Linked DNA regions of Homo sapiens: region 2 is linked to region 1. Evidence: fine-mapped expression QTL. Tissue or cell type: whole blood. Region 1 holds a variant in brackets; the other region holds the start of a gene. All regions are shown on one strand. Distances are from middle to middle.

Region 1 (5,000 bases):
ATATGTGACATAAAAAGTTTTTCCATCTCTTCCTAATCTGTTCATGAAGTCAGTAATTCTTGCCTCACCTGCTCCATGTGGTAGCTCAGAAAATGCAAATTCTCTCAGCAATTTCTCTCCTGACTTATGCCTGAAGACAGTAGGTTGATTTAGGAAAATAACCAGAGTACATCTGAAGAGTCAGAAGAAAACTGGGTGAGATTTTGCTGTGGATTTTTCACTGATTTATGCAACAAACATTGAACCTTTCTGGTAAGAGTTCTGTGGGGACCAGAGGTAAATAAGGCTCTCTCTCTGAACAGAAAGCTGTGTGGAAGATAGATGAGAGAGATTGACATACAAACCGTATTCTAGAATGCAGGGCAGGGGAAACAGGAGCTAGAGGAATAAGCGTGATAGCCCAAGGAGGAAGGGCACTTCACCAGCAGAGTCGGGTTTGTGGATGTGTCCTTGGACTGAACCTTGACGTGACTAGAATTGTGATGGCAGAGAAGGCGCTACAGCACATGAGACCATCAGGAGAAAAGGCCCAGAGGGTGAAAGCATTTAGGGAAAGACATAGAACATGTTAGGAGGGAGGCTAAACAGGGCAAGAGGGAGAATGGGGCTGGGAGGCAGAGCCTTGCCAGCAGCTTGAACTTCCTTCTTGGGGTTAGGGGAGAGAGGAGAACATTGAGGCTTCTGAGGAAGCTGGATGAAACACCCAACCTGTGTCTTAGGCAGGCCCTAGAGGAGTTAGGAATTTCTAGTCTTGGTGAGATGCTCAGGGAGACAGGGAGATCACAGGTGATGGAGGTGAGAAATAGAGAGGCACTAAAGACAGGGTAGAGGTAGAATTAATGGGACTTGGCCATGTAGGCAGGTGACTGTAGATTTGGGCCACTCTGAATGTATTTATTTACTTATATATTTTCTTTATTTATTTTGAGACAGAGTCTCGCTCTGTTACCCAGGCCAGGCTGGAGTGCAGTGGCATGGTCTCAGCTCACTGCAACCTCCACCTCCCGGGTTCAAGTGATTCTCCTACCTCAGCCTCCCGAGTAGCTGGGATTACAGGCACATGCCACCACGCCTGGCTAATTTTTGTATTTTTAGTATTCGGTATTTAGTGTTTTTGTATTTTTAATACACATTTTCGCCACGTTGGCCTGGCTGCTCTCGAACTCCTGACCTCAGGTGATCCACCCGCCTCGGCCTCCCAAAGTGCTGGTATTACAGGTGTGAGCCACCGCTCCCAGCCTCTCTCTGAATTTATTTCTTTAATATGCTGCAGAAAGAATATGGATGAAGGCCAGGAAATGGGATTTTCTTAAACATTTGTTTTACTCTAAGAAGTGGTTGAAAACTATTTTCACTTTATGAGCAGAATCATAGTTACACAGCTGGGAGGGACTTCTGAGGAGCGTCTGGCCTTGACCACTGAAGCCAAGTAGGAGACCTGCTTCCACTGTGCTGATCTTGGGTCCTGTCGGTGACCAGGAAGAGGATGCTCTGTGTCTGGCTTGACCCCTCCCTTTCCCCAGAGGTTGCTAGCATGTTCTGTTCATCCGGGGTGTTTGCCTATGGACTGCAGAAGTGTCTAGCACATGAACCAGAGGTATGGAATGAGCCCTGGGGACCAAAAATTTATGCAAAGCACATTTTATCATCCTGCCAGAGTCAGCAACAACACCTAGAAGTGAGTGGGATTGTGAACATTGTGCATATTGTCAAATAGCACAAAGGGAGTGTTGCAAATATTGTAGGGTTGCCTGCCTTGTTCCTTGTTAGCAGAACCCCAATTTTTTTGGTCTGCCTTCTGCAGGCCAACCTGCTGATAGCCCTAAGCTGATGTGTGGGTAAATGCCAAGGATTTGTTGAGGAACAGCCATGTGATGCCATTTTGGCCCTTGAGACTAGGAGGGGACGTCTGCTGGGACCTCCTAGGGAATTAAATAAGAGGAGATGCTTGACAGGCTAGTCTCTTCTGCTGGACTTTACTAGGTCTGCGTGTAAAAGCCAGCTTGGAACAGGGCCGACACTGATGACAGGAGAGGAAGACAGAGGGACACGTCTCTTTAAGTTGCTAAATTAATGCACCCTGAAGCTGACCT[A/G]TCTCAGGACTTGTTATATACGATAGAAGATTACCCTCGAAATTCTCTATGACTTGCAGCATTACAGTTCACAGATGGAAACTTAGGCTGAGTGAGATGAGGTGACCCCCTGGCACCAAGATTCCACTAGATGTGATGGAGATGTGTTGAGAGTCACACTTAGACTCCAGCCCAAGCCCAGACTTACTCTTTCTAATTTGCTAAGCACTGGTCTTTGTGCTGAGGCTGGCCACTCCGTCCTGGAGAGCTTCAGGCCCATTTCCTCCTCAGAAGGACAGCTTTCAGAAACCACGTGGTACAGCATGGGACCAGGAGTCTGGTCCCTGGAGCTTGTCCTCTGACTGCTTCTGTAGCCATTCTGAGTGCCTTGGGGCTTCTAACCTGGTAGGTTTCTCTTGAAATGTGCTTGGTGAGCCTTTTCTGGCATTTGATTTTCAAGAGTTCTCTGGTTGTGGGGTATCGAGAATGTTTTCAGTGAGAAGCAGAAGGGAGAGGTCTGTGCCCCAGCCTTGGACTTTGGGTCTTCCCCATTGGCTGATTGGTCCAACTAGGTCATGTGCCCTCTCTTGCATCAATCATCGTTGCCTACTGGCTTACATAACGGGCAGAGTGGATATCTGAATAAAACTGGAGTTCTATTAGACACCTCCCTGGGGGAGCATATGCTCCTGGAAAACAGACTTTGTCTTTGCTCATGCCCTTTTCCCAGGGCCAGGAATGGTACTTGGTACACACCATAGTAGTCACTCAGTAAATGTTGAAGGAGTGCTGAGTGCTGGAAGTTGGTGATGGAAAGTGGCTGATGGATGGGCAGCTAACAGTGTCTGTTGTCCTTGGCTGGTAGAGTTGATGTACTGCAAATAAACTTCTTGTTCATCCTGGCTGGCTCTTTCTAGTGGAATCTGCTGGCAATTCCAATGATGAGGGGAAACATTCTGCCCAAGCCTTACCCAAGGAGTTCATTTACATGATTCTGTCTTCTAGAGCCTTCCATTTTAGGAAAGGAAGTGGATGAAACAGATAGCAAATGGTTTTAAAACACTCCTGGCAAAAAGAAAACCCATTTAGATTAACATTTGTTGCTCCTAAAAGCATTGTCTGCCTCGATGCATTAACAAACCTAGGGTAGGCCAATTCCCTGGGAGGCTACCCTGGCAAAAGCCACTGTGGTGAAGACCAGACAGAAGGGACAGCAGGCCTTATTTGAGGTCCAGGGATAGACCTACGTTGGAGCAGACTCCAGGTCTGCTGCATCCTCTAACAGAAGGTCTCACATGGAAAAAACAGTTGATAAATTCACTGCTGTTTTAAGAGCTGAAAATATGTGTGTGTGTGTGTGTGTGTGTGTGTGTGTGTGTGTGTGTGTATGCATGTGTGTGAGTCAGTGTGTGTATGTTTTCAGCTCTTAAAACAGCAGTGAACCAAGCAGCATGCCAGGCTCTTGAGGAGCAGCCTGTTATGCATCCTGGCCAGTGAGACTGGGATGGGATCTGCTGGGGGTTTCCTGTGTAAGTGGAAAAGAGGAGATGTGGGAGGGGAGCTTCCTGGTGAGACACATAGCGGAATCACAAACAAGATCCTGTGAATTGGAGAAACAGCAGACTTAGAGATGAGGAATGCTGAGGCAGAGGCGGGGGATAGACGGGTTTAAGTGGGACGCTTTGGCAAAGCCTGAGTGAAAAGGTAACATTTGAGCAAAGGCCTTGTTGCAGGAGTCAGATTCTGAGCTGCAGATTTTTGCATGCAGGATTATTGGGGAGGGCTCTCGGGATCCACACCATTGAAGGAGTGAAGGAAGCAGCACCAGACAGAGGGAGAAGGCAAGCTATGATGTAAGCACAGAGAAAGCCGCAGCCAGCCCTGCTGGGAGTTCTGTAGCTGGGGAGGCCCTTCAGAATTGTCGTGGATTGGGGTGGGAGACCAGGGCCCTTTACTCCCGTGTCCACAGCCTGGATATAGGCTCTTTTGGAAAGGAGACCTGACCCTGCCAAAAGAGTGCTTCCACTGAGGGCAGGTCTGACCTGGAGGAAGACTACAGGGAGCTGTTGGGGCTGCCAACACTCCACAGATAGCTATGGGAGTGTGCTTTAGTCCCTGGAGGGTAGGGACCTGGGCATGATACCACAGCATTCGCTGCAGGCCTCATGGAGATGAGGAAGGTGCCATCTGAGGGAAGAGCATTCCAGGCAGAAAGAAGAGCTGGAACTTGCCTGGAGGGTTTGAGCAGTAGCACAGATGTCATTGTGGTTGGAGCAAGGCAAGGGCTGTGAGAGAGGAGGCCAGAGAGTGAATAGCAGACTGATTGGGAGAGCCTAGTAGGCTACTAGAAGGCCTTGATTCTCACTGCAAGGGGAGCAGAGGACTACTGTGATCTGACGTGAGTTTTAGAGATCTTTCTGACTGCTACGTGGAGACTAGATTGGTTGTGGGGGACCAGAGGGAGGGAGGAGCCAGGAGACCAGTTATAATGCCAACTACTGGTAGTAATCCAAGCAAGAGATGGTCTGGATCAGGATGGTGATGGCTGTGATGGCAAGAAATGGTTGGAGCTGGTGGGGGAGACTCTGTGTGTGTGTGTGTTTATGTAATACATTACATGTATATATGTGTTTATATGTATATGTAATATATATATGTATATATATATATGTGTATGTGTGTGTGTGTGTGTGTGTGTATATATAAACACATTCTTTTCAGGTATAAATAAAATGTCCAGACCTTAAATGTATAATGTGTTGACTTTTGACAAGTTAATGTACTTTGTAACCTGTTCCCTGATAAAGTTAAGGAACATTTGCATCTCTCCTGAAAGTTTGGGTTATGGGTATGTTGGGAAGGTAGGGTCAAATATGGGGTATGAGATAAGATAGAACAGGCCGGGCATGGTGGCTCACACCTGTAATC
Region 2 (5,528 bases), 24 kb before region 1:
CGTGAGTCCATAGAGTAAGGCATTTATTGTAAACCTCCAGGGAGTTTCTGAAAATAGTATCTTCTCTTCAAACCTAGGATGAAGCTGGAGGCAGATTCGTCGCTTTCTCTGGAGAAGGACAGTCATTGCGTAAAAAGGGAAGAAAGCCCTAAGTGAGGACTGTTGGCTGATTGGAAAATAATAAAAGAATCATTTGCAACATCTTGGCTTTTAGTTACTGGCACTGACAGGGACGAGCCTCATCAGAGAATACTCTGTTACTTAAGATTTATTTAGAGTTACCTAAGAATTATTAAGTTTGACTTGGAAGTGGAGCAGCAGGACTTTGTAGTTGTATGCTTGATTTGGGGAAAGACAAAGAGCTGTCCCTGAGGGCCTGTAGATAGCTGCCTCCTCACCTCTTCACGCTTTCAGCTTGAGGGGAGCTCCCACTGCCTCAGCAGGAGCAATTCTGCATCCCTAATTCTGTCAAAACCTATGAAGGTGACTAAATTGTCTAACATGAAGTGTTCTTTCTTTTTCTTCATTTATCCTTTCTTTTCCTACATCAATTGCATAGGTGTCAGTCTTTGGCCTAAAAAAAGGCTTTAAATAGACATGTGTTCTATAAGTAGTGGCTGTCCCACTACTGTGGCTGCAATTTAAGTATTTGACAAAGAATGTTTCTATTTTTATTTTACATATTTTTTTCAAAAACACCACTCAGAAGAACCTGATCTGAATGAGTTTGCACTTTTATTCTCATTTCATATGGACATAACTGGCTCCTTAGTGAACCTGTTCATAGTGAAACAACTCCATGGAGAAGCAAACATGTGAATGTTAGAATGAACAAATGCTAAAGAGATGTTCCTCTCCTTCTTCCCTACTCCCCAACTCCCAATTTTAATTTATTAAATCATCCAAGCTTCTGCTGGCCTGTATTTTTTATCAGTATTTATTTGGTCTTAGATCTTCACTTTCTATAACGTGAGATCTTTTGACATGCTAATCTGATTATTTTAAATTTGTTCCCATGAGCCACTGTGCCTGGCCCCATTGGGAATAATTCTAAGCCAAGAATTTCAAGTAAAAACAGGCAATAACTAAAGCCTAAATCTAAATGTTTGATTAGGTACTAACACAGACTGGTGGTTGGGCCTCTGACCATAACTGAAGGCCTGTTGGCAGGTGCTCCGTGTTCCATCTCACCATTAGAAAAGTGTCCCTCTGGGGCTTCTCCTGGAGAAAGTAGGAAGAAACAAGGCTGCCTGATCCCTAGGTGGCAATGGCTAAGCCCAGCAGGGTCCCCCATGAGCCAGGGCTAACCCTGCTTCCAGACATGGGGGTCCTGCCCTGGTCAGGGCCCCTCCAACACTCCAGAGAGGAGAGAATGGTGGCCCCAGGGTCTATCCACGTCTTCAGTGAAGAGTGTCTATGAGTGTCATGATGTTCAGTACTTGGCCTGTGGCACAAACCATCATCACTGGAAATGGGCGTGGTTTTGGAAGGCATGAGCACTGTGGGGACTTACCTGAGCCTCCACTGACAAAGTCTCAGTTTTACTAGCAGAGGGAGAAACCCTTGGTGGGTAGACAGCCTTCATTTGCAGGATCACATCAGCTAACAGACTGTCACTTTATGCATAATGAAGAATGTTACAGTACCTCTGGCTCTGGGTTTTTGTCTTCACTAAGCAACACCTGCTGTGTATGCAGTGAAACGCCTGGTCCTTTGCTGGAGGCACACTCCCCTGCCTGGACCAGGATGGATTCCATTGCAGAGCCTTTTAATGACACAGTGGGGCCAGTTGGAGCACTGATCCTGGTCATTACTCCTGCACCCTGGCCTGCAGCCTTCCTCTCAGTGTCTTATTTGGGCTTGGTCCTTGAGCCGGCTGCCTCAACAGCAGGACCCCTGGTAAAACTGCAGCTTTCTGATCCACCTCCAGGGAGTCTGTCCCAGTGTCATTCCTGGGACTGGCCCAGCAGTCCCAGGATTTGTATCAGTGGATACTGAGGATTTGTTATCAGTGAAGTGGGAGAACCGCAGCATAGGTACTGCAGGGCGTTTCTGCAAGCCCACCAGCCTCCTCTTTACTTGCCTTTGTTGCCTCTTGTGCATTGCTCCTTTTTATAAACGTCCCAGCCAGGCACTGGCGCTCCGCCTATAATCCTAGCACTTTGGGAGGCCAAAGTGAGAGGGTCGCTTGAGGCCAAACTAGCCTGGGTAACTTAGCAAGACCCCATCTTTACAAAAAAAAAAAAAAAAAATTAAAAATTAGCCTGGTGAGGCTGTGCATGCTTTTGGTCCCAGCTGTTCGGAGTCCAGGAGTTTGAGGTTGCAGTAAGCCATGAACACGCCACGCCACTGCACTAAGCCTGGGTGACACAGCAAGACCCTGTCTCGAAAAATGAATAAGGTAAATGTTACATGTCTCCCGCACCCTTAGAATAGAACTACAGACATCCAAGCCACTCCTACCCCGCTCACCCCTGCTACACACCGCCTCCATACCTTTGACCGGCCTATGGCTGTACTCGGATTGCATTCTCAGCCTCCACTTCAAGCCTGCGTTCCCTGGGGAGGTCATTCAACCCTAGATCCACCATATGTCATGCCCAACCAATCTCAGTTACTTTGCGAGTTCACCTCCATCCTGAGTGGACGCTCAAGCAAGACTGCTGGAGCTGCAGATCTGGGAGGTTCGCTGCACCACCTTGATGCTCAGTATGTACTTTTGAAAATATACCGGATTGTTGAGATTTGAGAAAATCTCATAAAGCTGCTGAAAAGAACTGGCCAGAGCCGTGTGATTTGAGAGGCGGCTGACGTAAGGTAGCTGCGCGGCCCAGGATGCCCGCCTGGCCCGGGGTGAATGGCGCTGTCGTCGCGGTGGTCGCGTAGGCTTCGCGCCAGGTCTCGCCCCGGATTTACCCTGCGACCCCGGCCCTCCGCGCGCGCCGCAGCCGCCCTCGGTTGCTATTGGTTGCTCGTCCTGTTTGTCGGCGCTTCTCGAAGAAGGGGGCGAAGACGTGATTGAATGTGTCGGTGCTCATTAGTTCTTCTGTCAGTCGATCACGAGGTGCCGTTTTCTTCATTTTTCATTGGCTGGCGGACTGAGGGGCGGGCTTGGCGCGCCGGTCGCCCAGACATGGCGGACGGCAGCGGCTGGCAGGTGAGTGTGCTGGGTCGGAGCCGGGAACCACCGGGGTCTTCCGGAGGGAGGGAACGGGACTGGCTCGGGGCGTAGGGCGCGGCCGCCGGGCCCCGCTCAGGCGCCGCCTCTCGCCGCAGCCGCCGCGCCCCTGCGAGGCCTACCGCGCCGAGTGGAAGCTCTGCCGCAGCGCCAGGCACTTCCTACACCACTACTACGTCCACGGCGAGCGGCCGGCCTGCGAACAGTGGCAGCGCGACCTGGCCAGCTGCCGCGACTGGGAGGAGCGCCGGAACGCCGAGGCCCAGGTGCGCCGGGAGGGAGCGGGGCGGCGCTTCGGAGCGCCTTGCGGGGCCCAGCTTTCCCCACCCCTCCACGCCCCATGCCCCGCGACCTAGCCGGGGACTGACGGGGTCCCTATCCTCCTCACGCTTCCTTTCTTTTGAGAGATTGTGTAAATTAGCATATCAACAGGACTTTCAGAGGGCGTGAAAGACAAAGGAGGAGACCAGCGAGGAGGGGGTGTAGAGTGGTTTAGAGAGGGAAGAGGGCAGCCGTCCGGTGTTAGGGTCATCAGCTGGCCTACGCAGGAGGTGATGTTGCTGAGTCCTGAGTGACCAGGAGCCAGCCTTCATCCAGCCCCGGTAGACACCGCTGAGAAACAGATAAGGCCTGGGTTCCTGAAGCAGAGGGTAGGTGGATGGTTGGAGAGCGGTATACCAGGGACCTGGCGGGCCTTTTGATACGGAGTTTAGAGTTTAGTCTAAAGTGTGCTGGGAGGCATAATTCGATTTATATCTTTAAAAGATCAGTCTGTTAGCAAAGTGTGGTGGCGTGCACCTGTGGTCCCAGCTACTTGGGAGGGTGAGGCGGGAGGATCGCCTAAGCCCAGGAGTTCAAAGCTGCAGTGAGCTATGGTCACACCACTGCACACCAGCCTGGATAACAGAGGGAGACCTGTCTCAGGGGGGAAAAAAAAGAGAGAGGGTAAAAGAAGTTCAATCTGTTTGCTAGGGTGTAGAGAATATATTACAGGAGCAGAGAGACCGGTAAGGAGGTGGTTCTAGTTGTTTTTTCGTCCAGCAAATATGTACCACATTGGGTGCTCTTGGGGATGCACGAGTGATAAGAAGAGTCTCTGCCCTCCTGGCACCCACACTGTAGTGTAGAATACAGTGCTACGGTGGACCCCTTGTGGGAGAGGAGATGGAGAGAAGCCAGCCGAAAGGTGCGAGGCTCATGGGGAGTGCCAAGGAATGAGAATCAATGGGACTGATCAACACTTCAACATTATTAAGTGTATACAGTGATCTGAAAGAGATGAACTGATGTGGAAACCAGACTGCTGTATAAAAGAAAATGATGACTATTCCATAATATGTGAAAGTCAAAAAAAGTAAGAAAGCTGACAGCTTATATAGCAAGAGATTGATAACTTTAATGTATATATATGTGCGTGTGTGTGTATAAAGAGCTGTTATATATATATCAATAAGAAATATAGGGATTATTTCAGAATGGAAAAATGGCCAAAGGACACAAAGAAGCAATTCATTAAAAAAGAAAGCCAGCTGGGCATGGTGGTGGGCACCTGTAATCTCGGCACTTTGGGAGGCCGAGGCAAGGGGATCGCTTGAGCCCAGGAGCTTGAGACCAGCCATGGGCAACATGGTGAGACTCCATCTTTATAAAAATAATAAAAAAGGAGAAAAGCCTGGGCATGGTGGCTCATGCCTGTAATCCTAGCACTTTGGGAGGCCGAGGTGGGCAGATCACCTGAGGTCAGGAGTTTGAGACCAGCCTGGCAACATGGCGAAACCCCATCTCTACTAAAAATACGAAAATTAGCCACGCATGGTGGCAAACACCTGTAATCTCAGCTACTCGGGAGGCTGAGATAGGAGAATTGTTTGAACCTGGGAGGCGGAGGTTGCAATGAGCCGAGATCGTGTCACTGCACTCCAGCCTGGGCAACAGAGTAAGACTCCCTCTCAAGAAAAAAAAAGAAAAAATCAAATGGCCAGGTGTCAGGTATATAAGTCTAAATGACAGTAACAGCAGAAAGTGGTGTTGATAGAGGTTTGAAGAATTCTGGGTAGTTGTGCAGTGTTGGTGGGGGTGTCAGGTGTTCTGATTATGTAAATGTCAGATACATACCTTTTGACCTTAAGTTTTACTTCTGGAACTTTATCCCAGGGAAGTAATTGGATAACAGTGTACAGTTAAAAGTTAGAATGCTAATTATGTTTTTGATACTGCAAAAGCTGAAAACAACCTAAATTTCACTAATAGACATTTGACCAAATAGCTTTTTCCACAAAGTGAAATACCAGATAGCCTTTGAAAAGAATGGTCGGTCATCTCCCTGGGTATGGAAAAGTGCCTACAGTGT

Evidence for each region. PIP is the estimated chance that this variant, and not a neighbour inherited with it, causes the effect. A credible set is the group of variants that fine-mapping cannot tell apart.
Region 2: it holds the start of C22orf39, and the variant in region 1 is the best candidate, but not a certain one, in a credible set for the expression of C22orf39 in whole blood (INTERVAL, PIP 0.71).

Annotation. Positions count from the first base shown.
Region 1 is chr22:19,421,942-19,426,941 of GRCh38, reverse strand. All of the region lies in intron 1 of HIRA (histone cell cycle regulator), which reads left to right. Among named protein-coding and RNA genes, the nearest start is that of HIRA, 7.3 kb to the left of the region's middle. The variant A/G (reference allele first, on the strand shown) is at 2,094.
Region 2 is chr22:19,445,294-19,450,821 of GRCh38, reverse strand. It overlaps C22orf39 (chromosome 22 open reading frame 39), which reads left to right and starts at 3,111. Exons shown (of 3, transcript NM_173793.5): 1 at 3,111-3,157; 2 at 3,277-3,444. The coding sequence starts at 3,134. It overlaps UFD1 (ubiquitin recognition factor in ER associated degradation 1), which reads left to right. Exons shown (of 12, transcript NM_005659.7): 12 at 78-911. The coding sequence ends at 152. UFD1-AS1 (UFD1 antisense RNA 1) reads right to left here and starts at 3,388. Exons shown (of 2, transcript NR_186687.1): 1 at 2,497-3,388. RefSeq lists a silencer at 3,166-3,565 and an enhancer at 3,013-3,915.